Linked DNA regions of Homo sapiens: all the other regions are linked to region 1. Evidence: fine-mapped expression QTL. A gene starts in region 1. Each other region holds a variant in brackets. All regions are shown on one strand. Distances are between the middles of the regions.

Evidence for each region. PIP is the estimated chance that this variant, and not a neighbour inherited with it, causes the effect.
Region 2: its variant is fine-mapped to the expression of HK2 in spleen (GTEx, PIP 0.93).
Region 3: its variant is fine-mapped to the expression of HK2 in stomach (GTEx, PIP 0.91).
Region 4: its variant is fine-mapped to the expression of HK2 in whole blood (TOPMed, PIP above 0.99). The same link has a PIP of 0.9 or more in blood mononuclear cells.
Region 5: its variant is fine-mapped to the expression of HK2 in whole blood (INTERVAL, PIP 0.98).
Region 6: its variant is fine-mapped to the expression of HK2 in whole blood (INTERVAL, PIP above 0.99).

The regions. Positions count from the first base shown.
Region 1 is chr2:74,831,741-74,836,748 of GRCh38, reverse strand. It overlaps HK2 (hexokinase 2), which reads right to left and starts at 2,622. Exons shown (of 18, transcript NM_000189.5): 1 at 2,106-2,622. The coding sequence starts at 2,168. It overlaps HK2-DT (HK2 divergent transcript), which reads left to right and starts at 2,762. Exons shown (of 1, transcript NR_185897.1): 1 at 2,762-4,094. RefSeq lists enhancers at 1,181-1,250, 1,028-1,904 and silencers at 1,481-1,730, 2,651-2,880, 3,061-3,130.
Region 2 is chr2:74,809,923-74,814,930 of GRCh38, reverse strand. No RefSeq gene overlaps it. Among named protein-coding and RNA genes, the nearest start is that of HK2-DT, 22 kb to the left of the region's middle. The variant G/T (reference allele first, on the strand shown) is at 2,444.
Region 3 is chr2:74,860,285-74,865,292 of GRCh38, reverse strand. The region is part of intron 2 of HK2 (hexokinase 2); the gene reads right to left. Among named protein-coding and RNA genes, the nearest start is that of HK2, 29 kb to the right of the region's middle. The variant A/G (reference allele first, on the strand shown) is at 2,731.
Region 4 is chr2:74,877,861-74,882,868 of GRCh38, reverse strand. HK2 (hexokinase 2) reads right to left here. Exons shown (of 18, transcript NM_000189.5): 9 at 3,948-4,181; 10 at 2,300-2,604; 11 at 1,010-1,158; 12 at 630-749. Among named protein-coding and RNA genes, the nearest start is that of LINC01291, 29 kb to the left of the region's middle. The variant A/C (reference allele first, on the strand shown) is at 2,629.
Region 5 is chr2:74,280,917-74,284,916 of GRCh38, reverse strand. The region is part of intron 8 of SLC4A5 (solute carrier family 4 member 5); the gene reads left to right. Among named protein-coding and RNA genes, the nearest start is that of SLC4A5, 60 kb to the left of the region's middle. The variant T/C (reference allele first, on the strand shown) is at 1,903.
Region 6 is chr2:74,872,508-74,877,515 of GRCh38, reverse strand. HK2 (hexokinase 2) reads right to left here. Exons shown (of 18, transcript NM_000189.5): 5 at 4,145-4,240; 6 at 3,573-3,672; 7 at 3,067-3,250; 8 at 195-350. Among named protein-coding and RNA genes, the nearest start is that of LINC01291, 34 kb to the left of the region's middle. The variant CTGAGGTAGGAGA/A (reference allele first, on the strand shown) is at 2,069.

The DNA of each region.
Region 1 (5,008 bases):
GCTTTCTATGTAACTGCCACTGGAATCAAACAGCTTCGCTCACCTAAGCTGGGAGTCAAATCCCAGGTTCTGACAATTACTGAGTTAAAGGCCTGATTCAATTCTGCCCCTATTGGTAGTTTAGAGGAAATACACCCAAGGGTCTTCAGGGACACTTCTCAAACTGACAGGTGGCTGCAAGGGTAGAGAAAACCTACAGGAATGACAGTTGCACACTGCAGCGCTTAATAATCGCAACTCCATAAAGTGGACAAGCCTACTGTTATTATTGCATTTCACAAAGAGAAACGGGCTGTCCAAAGAGGCTCAGGGTGCTATGGTTAATAAACCACAAGACAGAGATTACAACTCATTTCCAGATACCCTGGTTAATTCCCGTTCCACTCTGGGGGAAGAGAGATGACCCCCATTCCAAGATTGAGAGTGGTATAACTCCAACGGGGTTCCAACCCTGGTGCCCTCCTCTGGATTGAGGAAGAGTAAATTTATGCAAGGATTCAAATGTCCTGGGGTAATACCCAAAGGAGAACTCCCTGAGATTAATGACGCTCCACTGTGTATTTTAGGACTTGCCAAGAGATGATAGCCTTCCCCAAGAGTTCTTAGAAGTTGAGAAGTTACCAAGATCCTGCCAGCTCAAATCAAAGGCACGTTTTTAAGTAAACTGAATCAAGGTGCAGAGCCACATCCCAGGAATTAGAGAATAACAGCCATTTACAAACAGTAAAACCCAAGTAAATCAACCGCCTCTGCTCGCTCCTCCAGACTTGAGGCTGGGTAACTTCTGCTTTTCTTGGAGGTTCACGCGCCATCACTACATTAATATGCCTCCTATGCCCTCGGGACCGCCAGAATGGGAATATGAGCAGGTTGTCGCACAGAACGGTAATGGCAAGACATTTTCCCAAAAATGTGTTCCCATCAGATATTGAAATTCCAAGTATGTAACTGAGCAACGCTCCGTTGCCTCACAGCTCTTAAAACAACCTCCCTCCAGCTAATCCCCTCCCAACTTGTCCCCTACCTCAAATCGTAGCCCAGGCCCGGGCCAGGAGCCAATCCCCTAATCCCGGGCATTTCAGAAACTCAATTCTGAGCGCGCCCCTGGCCCTGCCCGTCCCCGGCCCCGGCCCCATCCCCACCCCCATACCCCGAGGCGGGGAATGAGAGCTTCCCGGCTTGGCCTGAGGCTCTTTCTTATGTAAATGACCCGGCCGCGGTGAGCGCTCAGCCATAGGGAGCTGCGGAGCCAGGTGGGAACAGACAGGTCGAGGCTTAAGGAAAAAAAAGCTCGTTTTCGGAAGGACATAAATCTCAAGAATCTCAAGTAATCCAGGAACGCGGCGCGTTGGCCTCTCCGAGTAACTTTTAGGGCAAACCAGAAAGTAACAACCAAAGTCCTCCCCTTACTCAGAGGCAGATCCTGAGGACACGAGGCTGGGCGGTCCCGAGGCTGATTTGGAGGGGCGGGGGTTAATGGGGGACGCCCCTCGCCGAGCCTCAGTTCCGGGCGCCACAGTTCCGGGGAGGGGGCGCGGCGGGCGGAGTTCCTCTGCCCCTTTCCTACTCCTTCCCGGGTCAGCTTCTCCTCGAGCCCACCCCCGCAGGGCCGCGGGGAAGGAGAAGGGAACCGCTCGTCTCCTACACGCGGTCCGCGAGCGCGGACGGCCCCCGGCGGCCCCACGCGGCAGCGGAGCAGCCTCCCGCAGCCACGATTCTCTCCACGTGCTCTCGCCGGAACTCGCGCTGCAGAAGGGGGCTCCCTCCCACGTGGGCGCAGCAATCCCTGACTACCTGCGGGGTGACCCGCCCCTCCAGTAACAGGGAAAAAGGGACTGGGGGAGAGAGCGTGAGCGCGTGCCGGAGCTCAGGGAGGGAGGGCGCCCGGCGGAGCGCGACCTCGGCTCCCCGCCCGCGCGCACTCGCCGGCTGTGCTTAGCGGACGTGGCTCCTGGCGCCCAGGAGTGTCCCGGCTGCCCAAACTTTTTCCGCTCCCAGGCCCGGAGTAGGGAGGAAGCGGGTCCCCGCAGGGTCGAGGAAGAGACTGATGGAGGCCAGACCACTTTGCCAGAGCCCAGCCTGCCGCCCCGCCCGCGCTGACTTACCTTCTGCACTTGGTCATGGTTGAGCTCCGTGAAGAAGTAGGCAAGCAGATGCGAGGCAATCATCCTGCCGCGGCCCGACGGCGCAGAGTTGGGAAACCGAGGCGGAGACGCGAGAGGGGAGGCGGGCGGCGCGGTCCGACTGCTTTGTGCTGGGGCTCGGCTGCCGGGCCGGGAGCTGGGAGTCCGGACGGCGCACAAAGAAGGCTACCGGCGAGGGTGCGCCCGGCTGGCGGAGGGCGCGGGTCTCCGGAGACGTGATTTTGGCGTCACAACTGCTAGAAGGCGCCTCAGTTCTCTCCTGGCGACGTGTCCGGTTGTCCCACGTCAAGGCGCTAACTTCGGCCACAGGATCACTGAGGCTCAACTTGAGAAGAATCTCAGCCCGGCTCCACTCGGGCAGTGGGACCTCTCCGATTCACAGGCGCGTGGCTCGGGCCCGCGGATTTTCTTAGCTGGGTGACACGATGTTGCCAGCGGCAGCCCGGGACTCCTGCGCCGGAGTTTCATGCAACAATGTGGCTTATTGAGGGGCTGCCGGCCCGCGGGCCTCCGGATCAGTGACGTGCGCACGCCCATTGGCTGCGCGGGGAGGGTGTGTGCGCCCACGGACCGCCCGCCGCCGTGGCGCAGCCAATCATCGCTCACGGCTCGCGGGCGCGGCCGCTCAGACACCGGAGCCGGCAGCCTGGGGAGGCGCGCCGGGGGCGGGGGGCGGGGGAGGGGCGGGGCGCCTGAGATGGGACGTGTGGTCCGTGGCTAAAGGCTGGGACGGAAAGGCGCATGAGCCACCGCCGCGTCAGGCTCGGCTATGGGTGGGGGGAGCGTGATCGCGGACCCGGGGTGTGGGGCGACTGGAAAAACGGGCCTCTGGACCAGCACACGCCCTGTGCGGAGAGACACTGTCTGGCATCTCGGGATCATGTGAGGGGCTCCCACTGCCCAGTCACACGTCTAAAGCATCCTAGTTCTTACCTATTGTAGCACGGCCGGAAAGTGAGCCGCCTTAGCTGCTGATTGTACTAGAGCAGGCAATACAAGAGTCGGCCCATCCTCAAAACCACTGATAGGATGTGAGTTTCACTAACCCCGTTTTACAGATGAGGAAATTGAGGCAAGGCCAGGGCTCACACCTGTAATCCCAGCACTTTGGGAGTCCAAGGTTGGAGGGTTGCTTGAGACCAGGAGTTCATGACCAGCCTGGGCGACATAGTGAGACCCCCATCTTCCCAAATAAAAATAAATAAATCAGCCGGACATGGTGGCATGTGCCTGTAGTCCCTGCTGCTCAGAAGGCTAAGGTGGAAGGATAGCTTGAGCCCAGGAGTTCGAGGCTGCAGTGAGCTATGATCATACCACTGTACTCCAGCCTAGGTGACAGAGGGAGACCCTGTCTCAAAAAGAAAAGAGACTTACACGAGGTCACATAGCTAATAAGTGGCAGATAGGGAAGAGAACCCTTGTCCCTCTACTTTAAGGCCCTATTCGCTTGCCCCATTATCCCATGCTGCCTCTCTAAGAGCCAGAGAAGTAGGAGGTAGAAAAAGAGCATCTCTGCAGCTCTGGGACTGATGATGTGAATGAACTGGGTAGATGGTAAGTGTGTAACTGGGTGATCTTGGACATGGGATGGGGTGGGTGAGGAGGCTTACCAATGCTGAGAGGAGTGGAAGCTCCAACCCCAGCTAATGCTAGACACCAGACTCCAAATTTAAACACACAGTGGAAACTGGCAAGAATGAAATACTGACTTCAATACAGATTTCAAGAGACATGACATTAGCACTGGTGGAGAATGGCAAGCCTAAGGTTGGAAAAGGTTCAGGGAAGGAAGATGAAGGTCTGCCATGTTCTACTGAGGAGGAGTTTTTCAAACAGTGGGGTGCTGTCTGCAATGTGTACAGCCTTAAAATTATTATATAAGTAATCAATACTCATTGTTGAAAAATAATATATGGATAAACAGGAAAAATAAACAAAAATCATAATCCATCTAGCCTCTCAGCAAAACTTCCTTTTTTTTTTTTTTAAAGCAGGGACTCGATATGTTGCCCAGGCTGGTCTTGAACTCCTGGGCTCAAGCAGTCCTCCCACTTCAGCGTCCCAAATAGCTGGGATTACAGATGTGCTCAGCAAAACTTCTTGAGAACTATGTACCCTTCTAAATGCACGTCCTCAACCCTCCTTCCCTATACTCCACACAGAATTGAGCTCAAACTGCTTTTGTCATAGTCATCATAATGACCTACATGTTGCCAAATCTTGCATTCTCTTCTCTTCCCTGCCCTTGTCTTACTCCTTCTCTCAGGGATGTTGAGGACAGTTAATCACATCCTCCATCTGGACACACCTTCCTCTCTCAGTAAGAGCACCAGTGCTCCACTCTGAGGGTTTCTGGCTAACCTCACTCCCCAGGCTCCTGAGTCCCTGTTTGCTCTATTGGTAAATGCTGGGGTATTCGGGGCTGCCCTCCACCCTCTTCTCTGAACTAGTTACAGTTTCAAACTCCCTGAGGAGAAACTAACTTCCTAGCCCCATGACTGTTATATCATATGCATGCTGATGACTCACCATAGTAAATCTACAGCGAGGTCCTCTCCTGGAGTTGCAGGCTTATTTCTCCAGCTTGCCATTTGTCATCTCCACTGAAGTGACTAGCATATCACACTTAACATGTCCAAAGCTGAACTCAACTTTTTTTCCCAAATCTTTTTCTTTCCCAGTTGTCTCAGCAAATGGCATCGCCATCCACCCTAACTCGTCTTCGATTCCTTCTTGCCACTCACCCTCACAGCCAGTCAATCCATCAGCAAGCAGTTAATTCCACCTATAAAACAGACCGTGCATCTGACCACTTATCTCCATGCCCTTAGACACCTCCTGAGATCTTCCCACAGAATACTGCT
Region 2 (5,008 bases), 22 kb after region 1:
ATTGAGACAGAAATATGGGGAAGAATGGATTTGATGGATAGATCTGGAGTTCCATTTCAGACATGCTAAACTGAAATGCCTGTGATAACTCAAGCGGAGATCACAAGTGGACAGTTACATGAGTTTCTGTTCATATCAGAAATCTGGCTGCAGGTAAAATTTGGGAGTTGTCAAGTTCACTTATATTTAGAGGCATGGGAAAGGATGAGATCCTCTACTGAAGGGGTGTGGACAAAGAAGCTTTCATTCCTAATGTGCTTGAACTTTTTTAGTCTCTCATACATTGTGGACCACACTATAGAATGTTTTCCTGCAGCAGCTGGGAGCAAGTCTTCACCTTTGTCTTTGACAGTACCGACAGCGAAGCTACCTTTCTCTCCTCACCAGCAGATGTCTGCCTAACTTGATGCTTATAGAGTGCTGGGCTAGAGCACAGTGCCTCTTCTCCAGGGTCTCAGATCTTCTGCATGTGGGATTTACTTTCCACCTCTTTAACTCTAATCCTAGGTCTGTTTACACATTGATTAAAAGGTCCTTAAATTGTTTTAGGACATAAAGATGTTTTTCTATTTCAAGGATGGCTTGGAAATAGAGATGAGCATACAAGGGAATGTGAGAGCATGCAGGATCTGTTTATTCTTCTCAACTCTTCTGTTTGTTTGAGTCCCAGTGTATGCTGGGTTTGATAACCAGGACTCAAGGAGAACTGAACCACCGACAGCTTTGTTTACTAAGGGTATACCAACATCCCTCTGTGGATCTGACATTTATATGCCTTATAGAGAAGATTTGGTTGGGTTTTTCTGTCCCATCCGATGTGGATCACCTGTACTAAGAGCTAAATTTTTCTCCAAGCCACCTCACAATGGGTTGAGCTCCATGATGTCCAATCTATACCCAGTCGCCTTTGGTTTGGGTAATGATCCCTGGTTCAATCAGTTATTGCAGCAGAAGCAAAGTTAGTTTCACTTGATATACAAGGCGGGTCCACTGCAATAAGACGCAGCCTCTGCTGGAGACCTCTAGACTCAGAAGCGGGTAAGGGGATCCCCTTTAGAGATCTGGCTCAAAGGAACTACAGTTCCTCGTCCCATCTGCAGAGCTGTTTTGACAAAACTCATCATATCTGTAGGTTCCAGAGTGTGACTCTTCAGTGTGGTGAGATTATAAAGTAACAAGACTGGTAGCTTAGAAGAACCCGCAAGATATGGAAGTACTTTCTTCAATTGCCTCATTAAATCTTTCACCATGATGTGTTGGCTGCTCTATTTTACAACTGCTTTCTGCAAAGCTCTATATGCATTTTATTTCTTTCAAACTTGAGAAAATTATTTAGGAGAGTTTCTGAACGTTCCTCATAGACCTCTTAATTTTGAGTTTAGCAATTTGGTCCAAGTAAATAGGATTGGTTCAGTTTTACAAAATTTCAAGCTACTAAAGAAGCTGAGAGCTTTGAGGTAAGAAGAATCAAAGTAACTTAAAGGCATGGTCAGTGAAAAATCATTAAACTAGCCATGCATAGACAAGTAGAACTTCCCTTCAGGGTAGAACTTCAGATACCTAGTGGTCAGATATCTGAGACACTTCAAAGAATTCCAGTGTGAGAGAAGACTTGACCTTTTAGGTCAACTGGAAAAGTCATCTAGTATGATGGGTTCCACGGAGGAAAAAGATATGGAGTGAAAGAAATGTGTCTTCTCTTCAGCTCAGCATTATCAGAGCCTTGTCATGTTAGGAGACAATTCTTCACAGGTCTCTGGCATTTGTGCATATCTTAGAGTCGGAGCACTCCCTGCCTCTATTTCAGACTATCTTTTCAAGGATGTCTGTGCAGCTAACAGCCCTGGAAGGTATAGTGTCTCCCTCCAGGGCAGGGTCAGGTTTGTTTACGCCCAGTATTAACAAAGATAGTATCTTTTTTCAGGGCAAAGTTCAGGTAGGCTTATTGTCTGTCACAAAACATTTTGTTTTTCTGAGACAGGGTCTCCCTCTGTCACCCAGGCTGGAGTGCAGTGGTGCAATCTCAGCTGACTGCAACCTCGACCTCCCCGGCTCAAGCCGTCCTCCTACCTTAGCCACCCAGGTAGCTGGGACCATAGGTGCATGCTACCACCCCTGACTATTTTTGTATTTTTTGTAGAGATGGGGTTTCATCATGTTGCCCAGGCTGCCTCCAACTTCTGGGCTCAAGCAATTCTCCCACCTCAGCCTCCCAAAGTGCTGGGATTCCAGATGTGAGCCACCGCACCTGGCCCATCACAAAAGATTTGAGTTCACTAAGCCTGGAATTCCTCTCTTATAATGTAACCCACAACAAGTGCAAGAATTACCTGGGTCTTTTGTCACCCTGTGGAAATTGAGGTTTGAGGAACCAATGCAAAAATAGGGATACTAGGCTGCTGCTATTACTTAAGTACTAACCTGTTCTTTGCCTCTGACCCAG[G/T]AGTCTTCTGTCTTCTGTTGGCATCTGTGAGTCAGGCTTGTTAGCTTGCAAGTACAGCAAAATCTCAAATCCTTCACAATTCTCGACAGTCAGGGATCTGTATAGGTCATTTTAGCCCAGGACTCAAGCTTATTTTTGTTAGCAATACCAAGAACTGTGTCACATAGACACATGGACACACAGGGGGGAACAACGCACACTGGGGCCTACTGGAGGGCAGAGGGTGGGAGAAAGGAGAGGATCAGGAAAAATAGCTAATGGATACTAGGCTCAATACCTGGCCGATGACATAATCTGTACAACAAACTCCCTTAACACACATTTACCTATGTAAAAAGCCTGCACATCCTGCACATGTACCCCTGAACTTAAAATAAAAATTAAAAAAGAAAAGGCACTGTGTTGGAACTTTCAAACAAAACTTTTCTGACAGCCCAGATAGAAGAGTTGTTTTACTTCTGATTCTCAGACTGCATGGACACATGCACAGTATTGTACTTTTTGTAAGACTCAAAATTCAAATCTTCTTCCAAAAGTTCCTCCAAAAAGTCTCAGCACTGAACAAAGTTTAGGGGACAGGCAGTACTGTCCATCCGTAGCAGAGGCCACACAACTGGACCAGATGTTTTCAAGTTCTCCTCCCTGATGGCAGCCAAGAACCTCACCCCACAACCACCATCAAGGGCTCTGCTTTCTCTTTCCTGGCTGGGATTGGGCTCTTCCCCTCTCCTCCCTGTTGCTTCTCCCTCCTAAACCCTTCAAATCCATCTCGCTCCCTTCTTCTCCACCATCCACACCTTCATCATCTCTTTCTAACCTGCCTCTAGCCTTCAGCTTCTCTCCTGTCAATCAGATCCTACACTGCCATCAGAGTTTACAACTTCCTTGAATCCCCATTGCTTTCAGCAGTTTTTGAACCAAGCAAACTTGATGGCTGCTGGTTTCTGTTTGATATTTTGAACTTCTGCTAAGATTATTTTGAAAAAAAAACAGGGGGGCAGGTGCCACTGCTTTAAAACTTTTTGGAAAAACACTAGTAACCTGAAGGATAAACTTCAAAGCCTTTAGCTTATTGTTCAAAGCTCTTTATAATATTGCCCCATCCCTGATCTTGCTCCCTCCCTCAAAATCCCTACACTTCAGCTGCTCTTCCTACACCCACATCACCATCTTACACACCTAAAATTTTGCCACACTCCTGTTTTGATCAAGCCTTACTGCCCACGGGATGAAGTCCAAGTTACTTCAGCTGGTGTTTATCACTCTCCCAGTTCCACCCTGCCCTAGCCTCCTTCCTGATGCAAACTCTTCTATCCAGCAAATTTGATTTCTTCCCAGGGTAGTGGAAACTGGGCTCCTCTGAGCCTTCTTTGAACCTTTGCTTACATATGGCTGCACCCTTTCTCTATTGTCCCTCCCCTTCACCCTGGTCTACTCCCATCTTCCACCCCAGACACAAGACATATACAACTACAATGGACAAAACCATCTCGGATCACTCCAGCCTATGCAGAATGCTCTGTGTGTGTGTGTGTGTGTGTGTGTGTGTGTGTGTGTGTGTGTCCAGCCTATCTGTTAACTCCTTGAAGGCAGAAACACCACACTCTTCTTCATACTCCATCCCCCCTCCCCAACACCCACACACATGCTCAGTACCTGGCAATAGCAGACTCCCAGTAAATATAGGTTGCTTCATGGATCTCAAGAATCTTTCCTGTGGCTCTCCCCACTTTTCCCACTTGAGTAACACAAATTCCTGATGCACCATGCTCTCTCTGATTCGACTCATGCTGTGTGCTACCCCATCGTCCCATTCTCAACCTGGAATGCACTGTCCTCTTCCCCCTTCATGAGCATTTCTACTTATTCTTTAGATGCAGTTCAGTGTCACCTTTTTGTCTAAACCAAGTTCTGTGTCATCCTAGACAACTTTAGTCATGAGGTTGGTTCATTCTGCGTCTGGATTCAGACATAAGCTCCTTGATCTTATGGTTCATTTCATAGACTTATATCAAATTTTGTAGCTCCCCCCAAAAAAAAGATAACACCCCACTCACCTCCAGGAGCCTTTCCACCATTGCTCTTATCATCTTGTATTATTATTGTCTGCTTCTTTGACCACCTTCTTCTAAAAGATGAGGAGCTTCTTGGGGGAAAGGACTAGGTTTTATCCAACTTTGTGCTCTCAACACATCACATATTCTATGTGCTTAATAAATACTTCTTAATAAAAATGTGAATTTTTTCAGCTACTCAACTAGGATAGTTAATTTTATGTTATTAATTTTTTTTTTTTTTGAGACGGAATCTCGCTCTGTCGCTCAGGCTGGAGTGCAGTGGCGTGATCTCGGCTCACTGCAAACTCCGCCCCCACCAGGTTCATGCCATTCTCCTGCTTCAGCCTCCCAAGTAGCTGGGACTACAGGCGCCCTCCACCACGCCCGGCTAATTTTTTGTATTTTTTTTAGTAGAGACAGGGTTTCACCGTGTTAGCCAGGATGGTCTTGATCTCCCGACCTCATGATCTACCCACCTCGGCCTCCCAAAGTGCTGGGATTACAGGCG
Region 3 (5,008 bases), 29 kb before region 1:
AACACAAATAATAAAGTATTGCTGATGAACCTGTTCCCAGGAAGGAGGTCCTCTCTTGCTTTGCTTACAGGACTCCTCTGGAACACACATTCCCTGACACCCCTCCTCCCTGCAGCCCTCCTCCACACACATAGGAAGCCACAACCACCATAGCCAATGACTGCATTCCTTCCAAGTCCGGAATCTGAGGCAGGCCTAGCACTGTGACTCGGCAATCCTGAGACGGGCCCTCTCGTAACGCCCACGCATGGTTACGTGCCCATGCCAGAGCAGTGGTTAGGCACTGGACCTTAGACAGGTAGGCAGGCCTCATTTTGAATTCCAGCTCAGCAGCTTCACTACCTGTGTGGTGTGGGCACATCACAGGGCTCTCTGAGCATGTCACCTCACCTGTAGAACAGGATTCATAATGCTGACATCTCCCAGCGGTTGTGATGCTTACGTGAAACATGGACTATGTTGTATGTGAACATATAGAAACACACAGGCTGGGTGTGGTGGCTCATGCTTGTATTCCCAGCACTTTGGGAGGCCAAGGCGGGCAGATTACTTGAGGTCTGGAGTTTGAGACCAGCCTGGTCAACATGGTGAAACCCTGTCTCTACTAATAATACAAAAATTTGCCGGGCATGGTGGCGTAGCCCTGTAATCCCAGTTACTTGGGAGGCTGAGGCAAGAGAATCACTAGAACCCAGGAAGTGGAGGTTGCAGTGAACTGAGATCTCGCCACTGTACCCCAGCCTGGGCAATAGAGCCAGACTCTGTCTCAAAAAAAAAACAAACAAATGACAACAACAACAAAGAAGAAACACAGTAAATTATTCCTCCGTTAATAGATCCTATCAAGGTACTTGTTCCCTTTCTCCCTGTCAAGGCCATGGAGGTTTGTGGCATGCTCTGGTGTCCAGTAAGGCAGGACAGAGGTTTGGTATAACTATAAGTTGGCATTAATTTGTGGGTGCCAAAAAATGGCATGTCCAGAGTAGCTACAACATAGGGCTCACGTGACATGGCTATAAACGCACAGCAAATACCATTGCCAAGGACTTTCTTTCGTTCTTAAGAAGGTCAGATCTGTTTCCAAAAGGGCTCTAGTGGCTCTAGTGGCACTGTGGAGGGCTGGGATAGCACAAGGAAGCAGCTCAAGGGCTGCTGCCACAGTTGAGCTGAGCAGCAGTGAGGGCATGAGCTCCAGGGCCATGTAGGGTGGCCAACCATCCCAGTTTGCCCAGGATGGAGGGGTTTCCTATGACATGGGACTTTCAATGCCAAAACTGGGAGAGGCTCAGGCAAATCAGAACACTGGACTGTATTTGATCCAACCTTAGAGCCTCTGGCTCTTCCTTGTCACTCAATGCCTGAGGCATGCAGCCGTAAACTTGGAGGTGGGTCAAAGTCACAAACGCATACTTTCACATTCAGTTCCTGAACCAGCCCTATATTTATAACTTAATGCCCCTAAAGGGACCTGCCCTTTCTGCCCTACAATATCATTTCCAGTGGCCCCAGGTAACTGCACTGAACATTCCAATCATCCTCTATGGGGTGACTCTGGGTTGAGGGGATCTTGTTTTTTTCCTTTAGTTTTCAAGCACCTGCTAGCACACAACAGTGGACTGCTCTGAGAATGTATGGCATATACTCCAAATGAAACGAGGACCGAAAAGATACATCTCCAAGTCCTAAGCAGGTAATGTAGCAAGACACAGGTCTCAAGGCACGTATTTTCCATGTACCCGGAATCGCCATGATCACTACCACACCTGGCAGCCTCTTTTTAAACCCCAGGATTCCAATTACTCCATTACAATGCAATGCCGGCCACCATTCAAGAGCTCAGCCATACAGAAGTATTCAATACTCCGTGTCATTAAAGGCACTGAATCACAGTTAACGCTGGTGTCTGGTACAGACTAGGAATGGAGTGATCTGATCTTCTACATCATTTGTTTTCAAACCATTTTAAGCAACAGAATGCTTATTTCCAAATAAAATTGGTGGGCCAAATGCCACAACGTAAAATAGAGAAAAACAGAGCTGCTCCAACTGAAGGGAGGGGTGTGGAACACGTAAAACACATGACTGGCACCCTAAAGCTCCTAGGACACCTCTTGGAATGCACCACTCTGGTGCTCTTTTTACCCAGGAAGTGTTTCTTAAGCTCAAAATACGTGCCAGTCACAGAGAGGTGTAATTAGCCCCACAGATGTGAAACCACTCTTCAAAGGGTTAAAACATGATTATGTTTCAATATTGTGTAAGCTCTGAGCATGTTCAGCTTTTTAGGCAGGCAGACCTGGGTTCAAATCCCACTCTAACATGCATTAGCCATGTGGCTTTGGGCAATTTATTAGAAATCTGACACTCAGATTTCATCATCTGTTTTAAAAGGGTAACGATAACCTCCTTCTAGTCAGCACCTCCCTCCACAACCCAGAACAAGAACACAGGAAAACACACACATATACACGCACACATACACACACGCACCTTGTCAAGATTCAGTGCAAGGAAGTGTAAGGCGTTTGGCACAACGCCTGACAATGTAAGTGCCATCTGCTGTACTGAGGCTATCTATCAGTACAATCTTCAATTTATATCGCCTGGACTACGTAAGTACCCCAATTAACTTGCTGTGTGCTAGCTCTGGATGTATGTCTCCGCTGTACAGTTGTTAATATAATGCAGAGCAACCAAGATAAGGGCTTCCTTCAGGTTTAACCAGCTTCC[A/G]TGCAACGTATCACCAGCCCGGTCTCCCTTTATCACATCATGTGCTTGCATTATATGGCCCGATATCTCTAATTGTTTTGTCTACATGGGCCTTATCTCCCCAGCACAACTTTCACTCTTTAAAGGGCACGAGGCAGCTTAGCACACTGCTGCTGCACAGAGGACCAAGCCTCGGAGAGGACTGTTGAATGAGCTGAACAGCTAGGCCTAGGTTAGTAAGAGAAGAATCCACACATTGTGCTAGCAGCACAGCACCAATGTGCCACTGGTGGTGTGCTTAAAAGCCCAGGCATTAGCAATTTGGCTGGCCAAGTTCCAATCCCAATGCTGCCACTTGCTCACTGTGACTTTGGGCAAGTTGCCTAATTGCTCCAAATCTATTGCCTTTTTCTGTAAAGTGAAGTTCAGCGTACCTACCACTGGATGACTGTAAGAAATGATGAGATAGCTCAAACACAGCGTTCAGCACAGTACCTGGCACTAACGATGTCTACAATTTTTATCATCATCATCATCACCGTCACCATCAGCATCATGGTTCCCTGCTCTCTAGAGGGTTTAAGTCTGGCTAGAGGATGGAGGTATACTTACCTGTGAACATAATTCACAATTCCGAGGTGAAGAAGAGTCAAATGATCGATCTGACACTGCCTTACCCTCACTCTGTCTCATAAGGCATAGTTATAACCAAACGATCTTGCCAAGACAAGGGTGATAAAGGCACCACAGTTACTTCATTTCTAAGTTAGAACATGCGGCTGGCACATTTTCAGTTGGGTTGTACTTGAGCTTCTTATTGGAATGATACAAAGCCAACTCGTATTTAGGATCCATTTAAAAAGATAATCATCTGATTTTCCCTAGAAACTTTGGTTCAGCAGTACAAGCCAATGTAAACTGTGAATCTTATGGCCGTGGAGTCAGGACTATCTATGCTTACATCCCAACTGTCACCATCTGCCCACAGGTGACCTTGGCAGCCATCAATCCTTTTTTAGCCTTGGTTGCCTCATTTTTAAAGTGAGAATGACTCTCTTGTAAAGTTTTTGTGGAGAGTAAAACAGATTTATGTAAATGGCCTAGTACAGACACCATGGGTGCTCATTAAATGCTATCAATTCTTCCTGCATTCCCTTTTTTTTTTTTTCGGAGTCTCACTCTGTCGCCCAGGCTGGAGTGCAGCAGCATGATCTCAGCTCACTGCAACCTCTGCCTCCCAGATTCAAGCGATTCTCGTGTCTCAGCCCCCCAGTAGCTGGGATTACAGGTCCATGCCACCACAACCGGCTAATTTTTTATATTTTTAGTAGAGATGGGGTTTCAACATGTTGGCCAGGCTGGTCCTGACCTCAAGTGATCCACCCACCTTGGCCTCCCAAAGTGTTAGGATTACAGGCGTAAGCCACCGTGCCCGACCCCTGCATTCCCTTTTAAAATGGAACTGTCCTCTGAAAGCCAGGCCCCTATGTGTGGCCCCTATGTGTGTGGTGGGGCCCCTGACAGAACTGCGTTAGGGCTGGTACCACAGTCACACGCAGGGTTGTGGCACAGATTAGGGCTGCCTACAGAGAGGTCAAGATGGTGTGTTTCCTAGCAAACGCAAATGAATGCTTTCTTTAATTAACTCTCCACTGAAAAAAAGAAACAAGGACATACAGACAACAAATGCTATTGAGGATATGGAGCAGGCAGAGCTCTCATACATTATTAGTGGGAGTATAAATGGTTCAACAATTTGGGGGAAATGTCTGGCAGTTTCTAAAAATTAAACATATACCAAATTCTATGAATGACCCAGTAATTCCACTCCTAGTTGTTTATACAAGGAACTAAAAACGTGTCCACAAAAGGGCTTGTGCAATAATGTTCATAGCAGCTTTACTCAAATAGCCAAAAACTGGAAACTGCCCGGGTGTCCATCAATATTCATATCAGATTCTAATCATACCATGGAATCAGCAGCCAAAAGGAACGAGACACTGATAGACACAACACAGATAAATCCCACATTATGACAAATAAAAAAAGACTTGCATAAAAAACAAATACTGTGTGAGTCGATTTATATGTGAAGTTCTGGAACAGGCAAAACTCACATATGTGGAAAATAGTAGAATGTGATTGCCTCTGGGGGGATCAGGTACAGGGATTGACTGGGAAGGGGCTCAAGGTAACTTTCTGGGGTGATGGTAATGTTCTGTATCTTGATGGAGGTTTTTTTTAGTTGTTTAAATTTATGAGGTGCAAACATAATTTTGTTACATGGATATACTGCACA
Region 4 (5,008 bases), 46 kb before region 1:
AGCCCCACAGCATAACTGACAGCACAGGCTCAGGCATCAGGAACCCAGAATCCAAATCTTGGCTTGGCCAGTCCCAAGCTATTATGACCTGGAGCAAGACACCCAGCACCTCTGTGGGGCTTATCTTCCTTTCTGTAGAATGGGTATTCAAACATATCTCTTATATGGTTGCTGTGAGGGTTAAACGAGATAATGCAGGTAAGAAACCTAACATAGTACCTGGCACACAGTAAGTGCTTAAAAATGCTATATATATATATATAAGTTCAATAGAGATGGGGTCTTCCTATGTTGCCTAGGCTAGTCTTGAAATCCTGGCCTCAAGTAATCCTCCTGCCTCAGCCTCCCAAAGTGCTGAGATTACAGGTATGAGTCACCACACCCGGCAGTTGTTAACATTGAGTAGCATCATCATCGTTGTCCCAAAGGCTGTCACAGCTGAGCTAACCTACTTAACCTCCACCAGCCTCAACTTACTCATTCCCATCAAGGAGCCCCTCCCCACTACTGGTAACTCACGCCCTCCTTTCCTTAGTCTTAGCTCAACTTTCTCCCCTGCTCCATACCTGGCTGGTTTTGTTTAGAGTCAATAAAGCCCACAGGAGAGCCCTCCAGGAAGGTGCTGTTACCTCGTCCAGGCTGTTCTGCTGGCAGGGGAAGGAGAAGGTAAAACCCAGAGGCAGGGACACGCCCTTCATGCCCATGTACTCGAGGAAGTCCGCGATGCACTGGACAATGTGGTCAAAGAGCTGCAGGGAGAAGTTAGGACACTGAGGGAGGGGCCCTGGGCAGGGCAGGCTGCCCCCAGTAGGGCCTGCGCACAACATCAATGTTTCTTTCCACCCAGAAGAAATGCAGGCTCAGGCACAAACCTGAGTCAAGACCAGGCTGCAGCCCTGGGTCCAGCTAGCCCTCCCCAGGGTCACAGATGAGCAGAGAAAGCACTGTCCTCGAAGGCAAGAGGTGACGTCCACCAGGGGCCCCCTCCTGAAGGCGCCGCCCTGCTCACCTCGTCCCCGGTGCCGTGCATGACCTCCTGCGGGATGGCGTAGATCTTGTTGTGCATCTCCACTCCACCCCACTTCCCATTCCGAACACGGACCAGCAGGACCCGGAAATTTGTTCCTCCAAGGTCCAAGGCCAAGAAGTCCCCTTTCTCTGGAAAATAAGCCCAGGGAAGTGATAAGTTGGGGCAGAACATGGGGAATGTGGAGACAGTACACTTAAAACGATCCAAATACACCATTCCTGTTCCATCAAATGCCACTTTATATTACATTCTAGAATACAGAAGGAACAGAAGAGTCCAGCTCCCTGAAGGAAGCTGAAGGGAAATCTTTTAAACTGAGAAAACCCTCCCTTGTTGGACAATTACAGTGTGCCACATGCTTCACACACAGTCCTCGTTCAACCCTTAGGCAGCCCTGTGAGGGAGACACTGCATTCCTCTCTTAAGGATGATTGGGATCTGGCTGATAGTTAAATCACTTGCCCGGGGCCATACGACCAGGACAGGGTAGAGCAGGGACCAAATCCCAGTCTGTCTCTGGAACCTGTAACAACTGTGCTACACTGGCCTGCTCATCGACTGTCTTCTCTGAATTGGAATAAGACCACCATTTCTGAGGTTACAAGACTTACAGCAGGGGTCAGAAATCTTTTTCTGTAAAGGCCCAGACAGCAAACGTTTTAGGCCCTGTGGGTCATGCAGTCTTTGCTGCCACCACTCAACTTTGCCAAGACAGTGCAAAACAACCATAAGCAACGTGCAGACGCATGGGCATGGCTGTGTAATAAAACCTTATGTACAAAAACAGGTGGTGGGCCAGATTCAGCCCATGGGCCATAGTTTGCCAACCCTGACTCAGACCAATGTGGTGATTGCAAGAGCAGATTCTAGAACCTGAATTCCTGGGTTTGAATCCCAGCTCCGACATTTTCTAGTTGTGTGAATTTAGGCAGGTGTCTTAACTTCTCTGCGCCTCAGTTTTCTGTCAAACATAGGTGAATACATAAAATTAACTGCTAATATTTTTTAACAGTTAACAAAGATTAAATGAGCTCATACACATAAAGTGCTTTGACACACAGTAAGCATTCAATAAGTGTTGACCATTACTACTGTTTGCAGAGGAGCACCTTGTTTGAGTTTATCAAAGACTAGAACTCCCTAGTAATACGGCTGAAGAAACGTGTTCTGGTTCAAATGTCCAATGCTAATGCTAAGGGATCCCTCCCAGGGTATCAACACCAGGACAAAGGCCCACCATGTGAGCCAGGTGGCAACCCTGCCGTGTACCTGTGCCGTCCGGGGTAGCACACACGTAGGTGGGCAGCATCTTGACGGGGGCACTGGCATGAGTCTCCTTGCTCAGACCTCGCTCCATTTCTACCTTCATCCTCCTCTTGACCTCCAGCAGCTGGTCATGGCTCAGCTGCAGATGCTCTAATGTCTTCTGGCGGGCACGGTGTTGATCGGCCAGCCGGTAAGCCACTGCTGTCACCATGGCTGCACCTTTGCCACTGCCATCCTCGGAGCGGAGGAAGCGGACATCGCAGCCGGGCACCAGCCGCCGCACGGTCTTATGTAGACGCTTGGCAAAACTGCAGTTCCCCAGGGCGGGTAAG[A/C]GACAGGTGTCCATGGTTAGGGTCAATGGTGCAAATAGTTAGACAGTTGCCCACCGCCTTAATCCAAATGCCAAAAGGCACCTGCAGGAGTGGGTGCTGCCCTAAACATCCTCTCTCCACTGTCCCAAGTTAGGAACCACTACAAGAACCATATCAACTATGACCACCCAGGATTGGTTCACCCCCGCCAATGAAAGGAAAAGACCTTTTAATAAGCCACTGTCCCCTACATGCAGCCACACAAGACCTCCTCTTCCTCACTGAAGAAGGCCCCCTGGCCACTGCTCCCTTGCCCAACATGGTACCATCAGCCTCTTTGCTGGAGCAGCCCTGTGGTATTAGGTGGTTCTGATGCCACCTATCTGTCTTGTTCTATCACTCATTTCACTAGCTGCTGTCTGGGAAAGACCCAAAATTAAAAGCTAGAGATGCTCTTCTGGACTTTAGCCTCTCTTTTGCCAGTTTCTGCCAATGATCCCAAAGGTGTCTGCACAGCTAAAGACAACGTGTTCAGCCAGGAACTCTCTGGGTAGTGGCCACTTGGAGCCATGGTCTCCAGGGCCTTCCTACTCCAAGTGCAGGAGTAGGCTGCAGCCTACTGGGGGCTGTTAGAGATGCGGGATCTCAGACTCACCCCAGACCTTCTGATCAGAATCTGCCTCTTAGCAAGATCCCCATGTGATTCACGTGCACACTCGAGTTTTTGCAACACTGGGTAGGAAGAGGGAATCTCAGGGCTGAGGCCTCCTGCACCGACAAGTTAAGAAAACAAAGGCACATTGACCTGGCATTCTTATTAGGTGAAAATGATGGGGAAATAAGTAGGCACAATAAAGAGACATCTTCCAGGTCTCAGCTGACATGTGAATATTCTGGTACCTATGACCTGAGGGATCAAAATGTGGACAGGGCAGGATCAATTTAATACCAAGGTCAGCCAGAGAAGCTGGTAACCCTCACTGGGCTGGGGTGGTCCCTGGCAGAGGACATAGCACCTGCAGGAATCACCAAGAATTCTAAGAGTAAAGACAGGAACAATAACGCATACAAGAGGGTGGCAAAGAGAGTGTCCAGCAGCCAGAGGAGCTCTGCGGAGAGCCCGAGTCATCAGTAGCCTTCAGAAATCACCTCCACCCACACCAGATATGACTTCCTCCCATTCCCCCTTGCCCAGGTGGGAACTTTCATTCCACCAAGACCCTCAGCTCTATGGTCCCTCCACACCACCCCTGAAATGCAAAATGGAGCTGGCATGAGGAGTCACTCAGCCCCAGGTACTCCAGGAACTCCGCATCTCCAGGCCCTGCACACTGACTCACTGGGGGTGTTTCTTGTAGACGGAACCGTCGACCCCAATAGTAGAGCGCAGCCGCTCCTCGCCTTTGTTCTCCTTGATGCGCTGCAGCACGGCGGCCAGGGTGGCTGCGCACAGGCTGGCGGAGCGTGTGGACACGATCTGGCAGATCCGGTGAGTGGCCACGCAGTCCTCCTGAGTCGGGTCCAGGCCCAACCGCATCAGGACCTCACGGGCCTTCCGGATGCCATCCTTCTCCCTGGGAAACAGAAAGATAGCATGTGGGCCTGTGTCTGACCCACTGTGGCCAGTGTGTGTGTCGGGGGGTGGCAAGGAAGCCCTTTAGTTCCAGCAAATTCACCACCCAGTGGGGACAGAATCCCTCTTCATTGCTTAGTCCACCTGTGCAGGGGCAGGAGGAGGAGGAAGGGGGTGCAAAATATAGCACAGCCACCCTGAGGCTCCTCTCCCAGACACCACACACACACGCACACGCATGTGCGTGCGCACACACACACACACACACACACACAGAGACACACGGAGTTGAGAAACACAAGTATTTCTTATGCATGTGCTATGTAAAAACAAGGCCCTGTTCTTGGTGCTTTACCACCAAGTTGTGTGTGTGAGAGTTTGTGTTACATCTGCTTGTGTTAGGGGAGACAGACAGTGTCTCTGCTGTCAGCCACTCTCAACATGTGAACCCTGCGGTGATGCCCACCTGGTTTCTCTCTCTAAAGCAGTAGGAGTCTATTGCATTTCACCATGGACTTGGCACTGCTTTAGCTTGTGTCTAAAGATGGTTGGTAAGGGGCTAGTGCTATAACCTTAGCACCCTTCTCAAGGGAACTAAATCTTGCATCACCTTGGGGTACTTGCATCACCTTGGGGTATAGCAACAAGTAGGCCCCATTCCTTCAAGAGTTTCCCCTTAAAACAAAGTCATTGGCACTGTTCCACTGCTCCATTTGGCTCCAAAGACACCTCCTCTCCACCATCTGGTCCCTGAAACACCAGGACTTCTTCAATCTACAAGTGGAAATCTCAAGAACAGTAAACGAGGCCCGCCTGACTCTTGGGATA
Region 5 (4,000 bases), 550 kb after region 1:
AAATCCAGATGGAGAGGGCTATCTGGCAGAGTTTGGGGCTGCAGAGTTGGAGCCATGGAGAAAAGCGTGTGGAGCAGAGAGCACTCCATATATACGGAGAGCAGAAACTGGAGGGGAGCCGCACGGAGAAGTCGCAGGAGCCAAGGGAGGGGCAGGGTAAGAATGGTTGGCACTGCTCATATCCCCAGTGCCTGTGACAAAGGGGCCTTGGGACTTAACTGGACTGTTCAGCAGTGCCCAATGCTCCCAAGAGCCCAAGGGGAAGGAAGGCTATGGTAAGAGGCAGCGGGAGGGACCTTCGGACAGGAAGACAGACTGCCGATATTTCTCCACCTTCTTTACATGATGCCACTCTGCCCCCAGGAGAAGAATTTAATTTGATTTAAATCAACTTTATTAAATTAATATTTAATTTCTTTCATTAGAAATAAGGAATAGGCCGGGCGCGGTGGCTCACGCCTGTAATCCCAGCACTTTGGGAGGCCGAGGCGGGTGGATCATGAGGTCAGGAGATCGAGACCATCCTGGCTAACAAGGTGAAACCCCGTCTCTACTAAAAATACAAAAAAAAAATTAGCCGGGCGCGGTGGCGGGCGCCTGTAGTCCCAGCTACTCGGGAGGCTGAGGCAGGAGAATGGCGTGAACCCGGGAAGCGGAGCTTGCAGTGAGCCGAGATTGCGCCACTGCAGTCCGCAGTCCGACCTGGGCGACAGAGCGAGACTCCGTCTCAAAAAAAAAAAAAAAAAAAAAAAAAGAAATAAGGAATAAGGGCTAGGCACAGTGGCTCATGCCTGTAATGCCAACATTTTGAGAGGCCAAGACAGGCAGATTGCTTGAGCCCAGGAGTTCAAGACCAGCCTGGACAACATAGGAAGACCTCGTCTCTACAAAAATAAAAATAAAAATAGAAAATTAGCTAGGCGTGGTGGCACACACCTGTAGTCTCAGCTACTTGAAAAGATGAGGTGGGAGATCACCTGAGCCAGGGGAAGTTGAGGCTGCAGTGAGCCATGATTGTGCCATTACACTCCAACCTGGACAACAGAGTGAGACTCTGTCTCAAAAAAAAAAAAAAAAAGGAATAAGATTTGTCAGGTCGAGTGTAGCTCTAGAGTACCACAAACCATTGTAATATCTAAAATATTTTCACTCCTCGAAGAAACAGTTTTTGCCCCCTTGGGGGCAATTATGCCCAAGTTGAGAGTGCATAGACTCAACCGTGCCCAGGTCTGTCTCTGCATGGGGGCCACTGTGACACCCAGAGCCTGACAGCTGCCCCCAACCATGGCCTGGGCTCTTCCCTCGCTCATCTCCCTCACTAGCCTGGGTAGTTGCTGTGCAGAGCCAGAAGGCACAGGTTTGGACACCCCCAGGTTTTCCCCACTCCACGTACCATGTATCTGGAAGAAAAGCCACTGGGTGTACTAGTAAATAAGTCCCTGCGGGCCTCAGAGAGGAACAAATCCCCAGCTCCACATCTGGGCCCGGTCCCTGTGTGGAAGCCATTGAATCTCTTCCTATGATGCCGTTCTTTGAACACTTACGGTGCTGATCGATTCACGGCTTGTCTCCTGCAAGTTGCACAGTGACCCTGAGTGGGTGGAATTTTCATTATCCCTATTTTATAGATAGGAAACTGAGGTGAAGGGGAGCAAGTAGCTCACCAGGGGTCAGAGCATGTAGGTGGCTGAATATGGATTCCAGTCCAGGCCTGTCTGACTTCCCACTTGAGGGATAATGGACTTTGTCTTCCTTTCCTCATTTTCTCAGCCCTTTCTCTTTCTGTCTCTAACTTCCAGTGACTGTTTTGACTTCCAGGGAAGAACATAGGTCTGGAAGCAATTCTGTTGGGGTCAGAGATACATGGGGAGAGCTGCAGAGCCCAGGATGCCTATCCAAGAT[T/C]GACAGGGAAGGGGGACATTTCAAATGACCAGGACCCACCCTGGGTTATTATGTCTTAACACCTCTGAGGGGCCAGGGCCTGAAGCCACTGCCCGCCCTGAACGAGGGCCTCTCCTGCCCAGAGTGAGCAAATAGAGAGGAGGAAATCTGGGCAGGGCCTTCTCAGAGGCCCAGGAAGGGGAAGGTGCCTTCTCCACACCCTGGACAGGGTCTGCATCCAGAAGCCCTAGCCATGGTTGCCAGGACCAGACCCTCCACGAGGGCCTATCACACACACCCGTGGAGCCCTTGCCAAGAAGGCCTTATGGCCCCCAGAGACCTGACTATCACCAAAGGCAAACCACACTGTCTCTATTCTCTCAGAGTGTGGATTCACAAAGCCCTCTGCACTCCAGACCCAGTGAAGGAACCAAGAAACTGTAGATGAGGATGTTTCTAGAAGGGGGCTTCTCCTAAAACATAAAGGGGTCTGGCAGTTACCATCTGCAAAGTGGTAGGTTTCCCTGCAAAGCAGGCTTTCTGAAGATGGCATCTGAGGAGGTCCTGGAAGAAAGGCCATCAGGACCTCAGGATAACCTGGCTCCAACCAGCAGTGAGAAGAAAGCAATGACTAGAAGTTAAAGTGGTCGAACCCAATTCTAGGCAGATCCCAAAGAGGAGTAGCTTGAAGGCCAGCTTGCGGACAGGAAAATGTGGGAAGAGAGTAGCTTTCTCGACTTCTGCTCCACCCTTTTCTACTCTCTACAGCTAACCCCATCTGGTTTCCAGATAACTCTCCAAGGTATGACCAGCAAGCCCCTAGTGAAGTCAGAAGAAGGGTTTGACCATCAGCCAAGAAGCCCACCATGGGCCTGAACAGTTTTGCTGGGCCCTCCTCCAGGCAAACTACAAGGTTAGAGGTGCTTGGGTCAGAGCTGTTTGAGGCTTGTCACCCCCACAAAAAAATAGCAGTTTCTTCAGTTGACAGGCCAGTGGAGCCACTCAGGGAAGCTAGAGATCTCAGATGTTTTGAGAATCTAAGAATCAGTAAATCATAATGGGTTCTGGGCCTTCTTAGAGTAACAGGAGAAAATGATAGGGAGTAGGGGACAGCCCCTCACACAGACACTCAGGCTCCAAGACGGTTATGGTCCACAATGCCCATGTCAAAGAGAATCGGGGAGGGGACGCTTTAATAAAAGTATTTAATTTGCTGCAGGGAGTGTTTGCTTTATTGAGTTAGGAGATTAACAGAGTGAAAATCTCAAATCCGCAAGGAATTTTCCCTGGCAGTGCTTTGTCGGGAGTTATTAGTTTGGGGGATGTTTCAGGCCCTTGGAGGAGTCACTCCTGGAGGGATTTAAATGGCTTTTTGAGCTCTGCTGAGCCTAGCACCATGCACATAATGGGGACTGTGTGTGCAGCGTCATTTCTAATGTGATCAATGCTGGTAGGTCAGGCTGTTAATAAGATAGATTTTTATTAACTCTGTCTCTAGCATTCCCATGAGGGAAATGCAGCTGGCTGTTTGCTGATAATGACCTTGCCTGAAGGGAGGGCTGGATCAGATTGGGTGGGGGCGACCACCTGACTGTGAGCAAACTATTTACCCAGAATTCTATCCTCTCTCATGCCCACCTCTGCCTGACTGCAAGTGGAGGGGCTGGGAAGGAGAATGACCTGGGTTGGAACCCACCCAAGTGTGGAGGGCCCTTTGGGGTTACTCAGAAATAACCAGAGCTTAGCGCCTCCCAAGAGCTGTGAAAGCAAATTCCAAATCCAAGCTGCTTCTGGTCTCAACTCAGAGCAGACCATAAACACGAACCTGCCAGAAGATTCTTATGAGACACATGCTCTGAGAATGTTCCTGCAGTGACCGGGAAGGGCAGGAGAAGTGGGTCAGTTGTTGGGTCAAACCAGATCAGTATGTTTTCAAAAGCCCTGAATGGTTCTATGCACATAGGCAGGGATGCTCTCACTCCATACAGGATGGAGAAAGCTGAACTATCTGTTTCAACCCTGAAATCACCCTCATTAAGATCCTGTATAGTCCAGGCACAGTGGCTCATGCCTGTAATCCCAGCACTTTGGGAGGCTGAAGCAGGTGGATCACCTGAGG
Region 6 (5,008 bases), 41 kb before region 1:
TCACAATCGAAATCGACAAGAGTGGAGACTGGTAAGTGAAGTGAAGCCACAGGCCCGCCATGGTCCACGTCATGTGAGACCCTCTTGCAGTCTATACTTGAAGAGTCAAAAGGTACAGCCCCCTCCTCATTCCCCAACTACCCGTCAACTCGTGTGGTGATCCAGCAAATAGAGGGGGCTGGCCAGAAGCTCACCCTTCAATGTCTGAGATGTCTTTGGTCTCAAAGCGACCGGTGTTGAGAAGCTCTGGGCTGAGCTTCCCCCCAAAGAGCAGCTCCTCCTTGGCCATCTTCACCAGGATAAGCCTCACCAGCTCCCCCATGTACATCCCACTGATCATCTTCTCAAACCTGCCGGAAGACACAAACCAAAAACATAAAGTCCCCACTGCCCATGTACTCATAGCTTCCCTGTTGAAGCAAGATGCGCACACGTGCAACTTCACAACTAAGGGTTAATGTGTGCAGCACGGCCCAGGAGTAAGATACGTGGAGAGGTGACGGCTCAGAGGGGCTGGCTTGGGTTGTCCCTGCAGGCTGATGGGCCTTGACCTATGGAGAAGAATAAATGAAACTTAAGCAGCCAAATGAAACACACAGGGAGTATGGAACATTCTGGAACAGCCTGTATTTTAGGTAAAGTTATGCGTAGGGTGGTAATCTTTAAAATTCTTCTCTAGCCAGGAAATCATTTTTAAAATTAATATCTTACATAGCCCAATATTTATTTACAAGAGAAAAAAGGCGATCTGATTAGATATGTAGCACAGGCCTAGAAACTCATCAGCTCATACTGTCCACCCCTGCAAGCCGTTCATGGGCTCCAGAGAAAATGGTGTGAAAACCACCTGGGGCAGGGGATGATGGGGCAACATTATAAAGGCAGGTTGGGATAGAGGAATCTGCACTGGGCTCCGAGCTCTAAATGACAGGTCTCAGGGGTCTGGGAGTGAAACAGGCTTCTAAGCAGGCAGGTGACAAGATGTTTTAGAAAGGCAGGGGACGGCCCCCAAACCAGCAGTGCGGTCCGGTGATTTAATTTTAACACTAGGTGGCACTGTTTTCTTTCATAATTGGTCTTTCTGACTAGAACTGAGAGGAAACCAAGCCCTGGTGATAATTCTTTTTGACAAAAGGCCCATTTCTGGGTGTTTGAGAAAGAACCTGTGTCTTAGAGGAGGCACATGGGCCTGCTGCCACTAACTAGGATGAGCCCCAGCGAGGAGGAGGCCCAGGACTGAGATGTGGAAGGGATTCCAAGGTTACCTTTCCGAGAGGAAACCCAGGCCTCCAGGAAGCAGCCTGCTCAAGACCCAAGGCCGAGTACAGCAGCATCAGGGCTAACTGAGAGCTGGCAAAATTGTGAAGATGACAGCGCGCATTTTAAATGTTAGTGCACCCACACAGGCAGAGCTTCAGGAGAAGGAAACCAGCGTGGATGGGAGCCTGGCTTCAACAGTAAGGAACTCCGTGTTGCTAAGTTTTTATTCTAGTTTTTAAAAACACTTTGTTCCAGTCAACATTTGGAAGATACTTACTTGGAAATATATTAGAGGGGACAAAAATTGTCTGTAGTGACTTCAGGGCTACCATGGATGACAATTTGGTGGGTGTCAAAGGATAAGCCGGGGGTGTGCTGTCATGGTCTGGCTGGCAAATTTGTCTTTTGACATTTGAAAGGGCCTTTAGTTCCTCGGAATGACTTGGGTGTGCCTCATTCATGGAGGCAGGCACTGAGTGACTTTTCAGCTCATAAACCTCTCATCAGCCATGGCAGACACAACCAGTATGATCCTCAGAAATTTCAAGTAAAGGACTCATTTCAACATGTGAAACAAGCTTGTGACTTAGATAAATAAACCATGCTTTGACAAAGCAAGGACTCTCAGGCCGGGCGCGGTGGCTCACGCCTGTAATCCCAGCACTTTGGGAGGCCGAGGAGGGCGGACCGCCTGAGGTCGGGAGTTCGAGACCAGTCTGGCCAGCATGGTGAAACCCTGTCTCTAATAAAAATACAAAAATTAGCTGGGCGTGGTGGCAGGCGCCTGTAATCCCAGCTACTCAGGAAG[CTGAGGTAGGAGA/A]ATCGCTTGAACCCGGGAGGCAGAGATTGCGGTGAGCCAAGATTGCGCCATTGCACACCAGCCTGGGCAACAGAGAGAGACTCTGTCTCAAAAAAAAAAAAAAAAAAACGAAAGCAAGGACTCTCCTGGGTTACCCACCACTGACTTGATTTATAGGGTTCAATTTTCCTGTCCAAGTAGAGATCTGCACGAAAAGCTTTTCTACAACAGTCACAAGACCAGAGATGATCTGTATTGCTCAAAATATTTTGCAACTGCTTCAGACCTTGAAGCAATCCCTGTTTCAAGATCTTTCACACGCACATTTGGCAAATGTTTGTGAGGGTGAAATAAGGTTTTGTAAGAGATAAAAGCAACTAAAAACAAAGGCAGGCCAGGCTGGAGAATACAATATTCAGGATCCAAAATGCTAGACGCCCCTCCTCCAATCCATCCCAGGACATAGTTGGGCCAAGGTCCAAGTGAAGGAGGCCAAGGAAGCTCCTCAGCCAATGTCTCCAGGGGCCATGGGTCTGCCTGCAGCTGCAGCAGGAGGCCCTGGGACCCCAGGGAGCAGCAATGAGCAGCCAGCTGTCAGCCTGTCCTCTGGGTGGTGATGGAGTTGGAGCTATGAAAGGAGCTTTCAGAGACCCCAATCTTGGCCACCTCAACACAACTTTCCTTAGGTGGCTCACAGTTCCCATGGACAATTTACAAATAGAAGGTGGAAAGAAAGAGCAGGGCCACCCACTTACACTCAGAATAGAACCTTCCAAAATGACTCCTGTGAAGGAAACACATTATTAGCTATAATCTGGTATATCCGCTTGCTCTCTGTTTTAGATCCTCTCAGCAATTTATAGTCACAGACATTCCTATGACCAGTGGCCACCTTGGCAAGCTTTGGGGATGTAAGACTGTAAAGAAACAACCCCCTGGCCCCGACCAGCCCCAGACTCAGCTCCAGGCCCCCGCCAAGCCCACTCGCACAGGAAGGGCCTACTCACAGTTGCTTTCCCGGGTTCAGTGAGCCCATGTCAATCTCCTGGTCAAACTCAGTGCGAATGTCGTTGAGCGAGCCATCGTCCCCGAAGGCCCCCCACTCCATATTGATACACATCCGCCCCTCATCGCCTTCCACCATGTCGATGTGGCGCATCTCTTCCATGTAGCAGGCGTTGCTGCCCGTGCCTGCCAAAACAAGGGACGGCTATGCACACGCCTGCTCCGGCCCCTTCCCACCCCTCTTCCCTCTTATACTACTGTCCCGAGACTGCCCGGCCAGGATGGCTGGGATTTCTCACTGCAGACTCTGGGGGCATCACAATACATGGTCTAATCTTCTGCCACCCCCAACTCCATGAGTCCCTGCTCGGCTCTCCAAAGTGACTGGACCATTATCTTCTAATATGAACTACAAAGGAACACCCAGCCCATGGGCCCCTTCTCCCTTTCCAGCCCACACCCCCATCCCTTGGCCAGCACGGGCCCTTCATGCACGGTGTTCACTCACCCACAATGAGACCAATCTCACAGTTGTGGTCATCATAACCACAGGTCATCATGGTCCCAACTGTGTCATTCACCACAGCCACAATGTCGATATCAAAGTCCTGTGGAGACAAATGGGAGGGCTCTGACCTTCATCATCACAGAGGGCGACTTTCCTAACACCAGCTATATATCACTCCTCCTCCTCCTCCTCCTCCTTCTCTCTCTCTCCCCCCTCCCTCCCCATAACTCCTCCTGTGATAAGACTTTTAATTCATTCTCTCTCTGAGCCATTCCACTCCCATGTCAACATCATTCCAACTTTCTTACTTGGAAATCACATTCAAGTCTTCTTCAGGTTAAGAACTAAAGAGCTTTTCTTGTGCCAAGGCTAAGATTATTTATCCATTTGATAATCTAAAAACCCCCAAAGCAGCAGATCGCATACAAAATTATTGAGTACATGTGTCAGGGAAAAGAGAACTCTCCTTAAGCTCCACGTAAGCAAACAATGATGAGTCAAGGACACTCAGGGAGTCTTCAGGGTGGACCCAGAAAAGCCCACAGACCCCAAGCTCCTGCCACCCCACTCACCCCTCTCCTCTGGATGGCCTTCCGGATCAGAGCCACAACGTCTCTGCCTTCCACTCCACTGGACTTGAATCCCTTGGTCCATGAGACCAGGAAACTCTGGAAAGGGACCAAGAAGTGAATATTGATTTCCCACTAAAACTGAAACTCACACCACACCCCTCAAACCTCCGTCATTAGCAGAGACCTCTGCCACTGGGGTAAAGTCATGATTGAATTTGTGTGTTACTTCCTGGCTAGCCTAGGAAAAAGAAACTCAGGACAACTGGCACTATAAGACACAGTCATGTGCCGCATAACAATGTTTCAGTCAGTGACAGATTGTGTATACTGCGGTGGTAACAAGATTATAATAGAGCTGAAAAGTTCCTATTGCCTAGTTAGATACACAGATATCACTGTGTTACAATTGCCTATAGCATTCAGTACAGTAACATGCTATACAGATTTGTGGCCTAGGAGTTAACAGGCTGTCCCATACAGCCTAGGTGTGTAGTAGTCTATACCATCTAGGTTTGTGTAAGTGCACTCTATGATGTTTATACATAAGTGAAATCACCTAATAAAGCATTTCTCAGAACATATCCCCATTGTTATGCAATACATGACTGTACTTGTGTCCTTACATCATTAACTCTCCAAGTATCTTTCTTCCAAGGGTCTTTATCATAACACTTTAGACTGGGGAGTTCCTGATTTCTCATTCCTGTTTCTGTGGAGGGGATAAGGATACTGTGCAATGTGTGTGGGAGAGAGGGTGATAAAGGGCACTCCCAACCCCCCAGATTTCTTCACCAGCCCCCCCATCGACATACACAGTCACCCAGAAAGGCAGAACTTCATCTCCACAATCCTCCAGTGCTACCA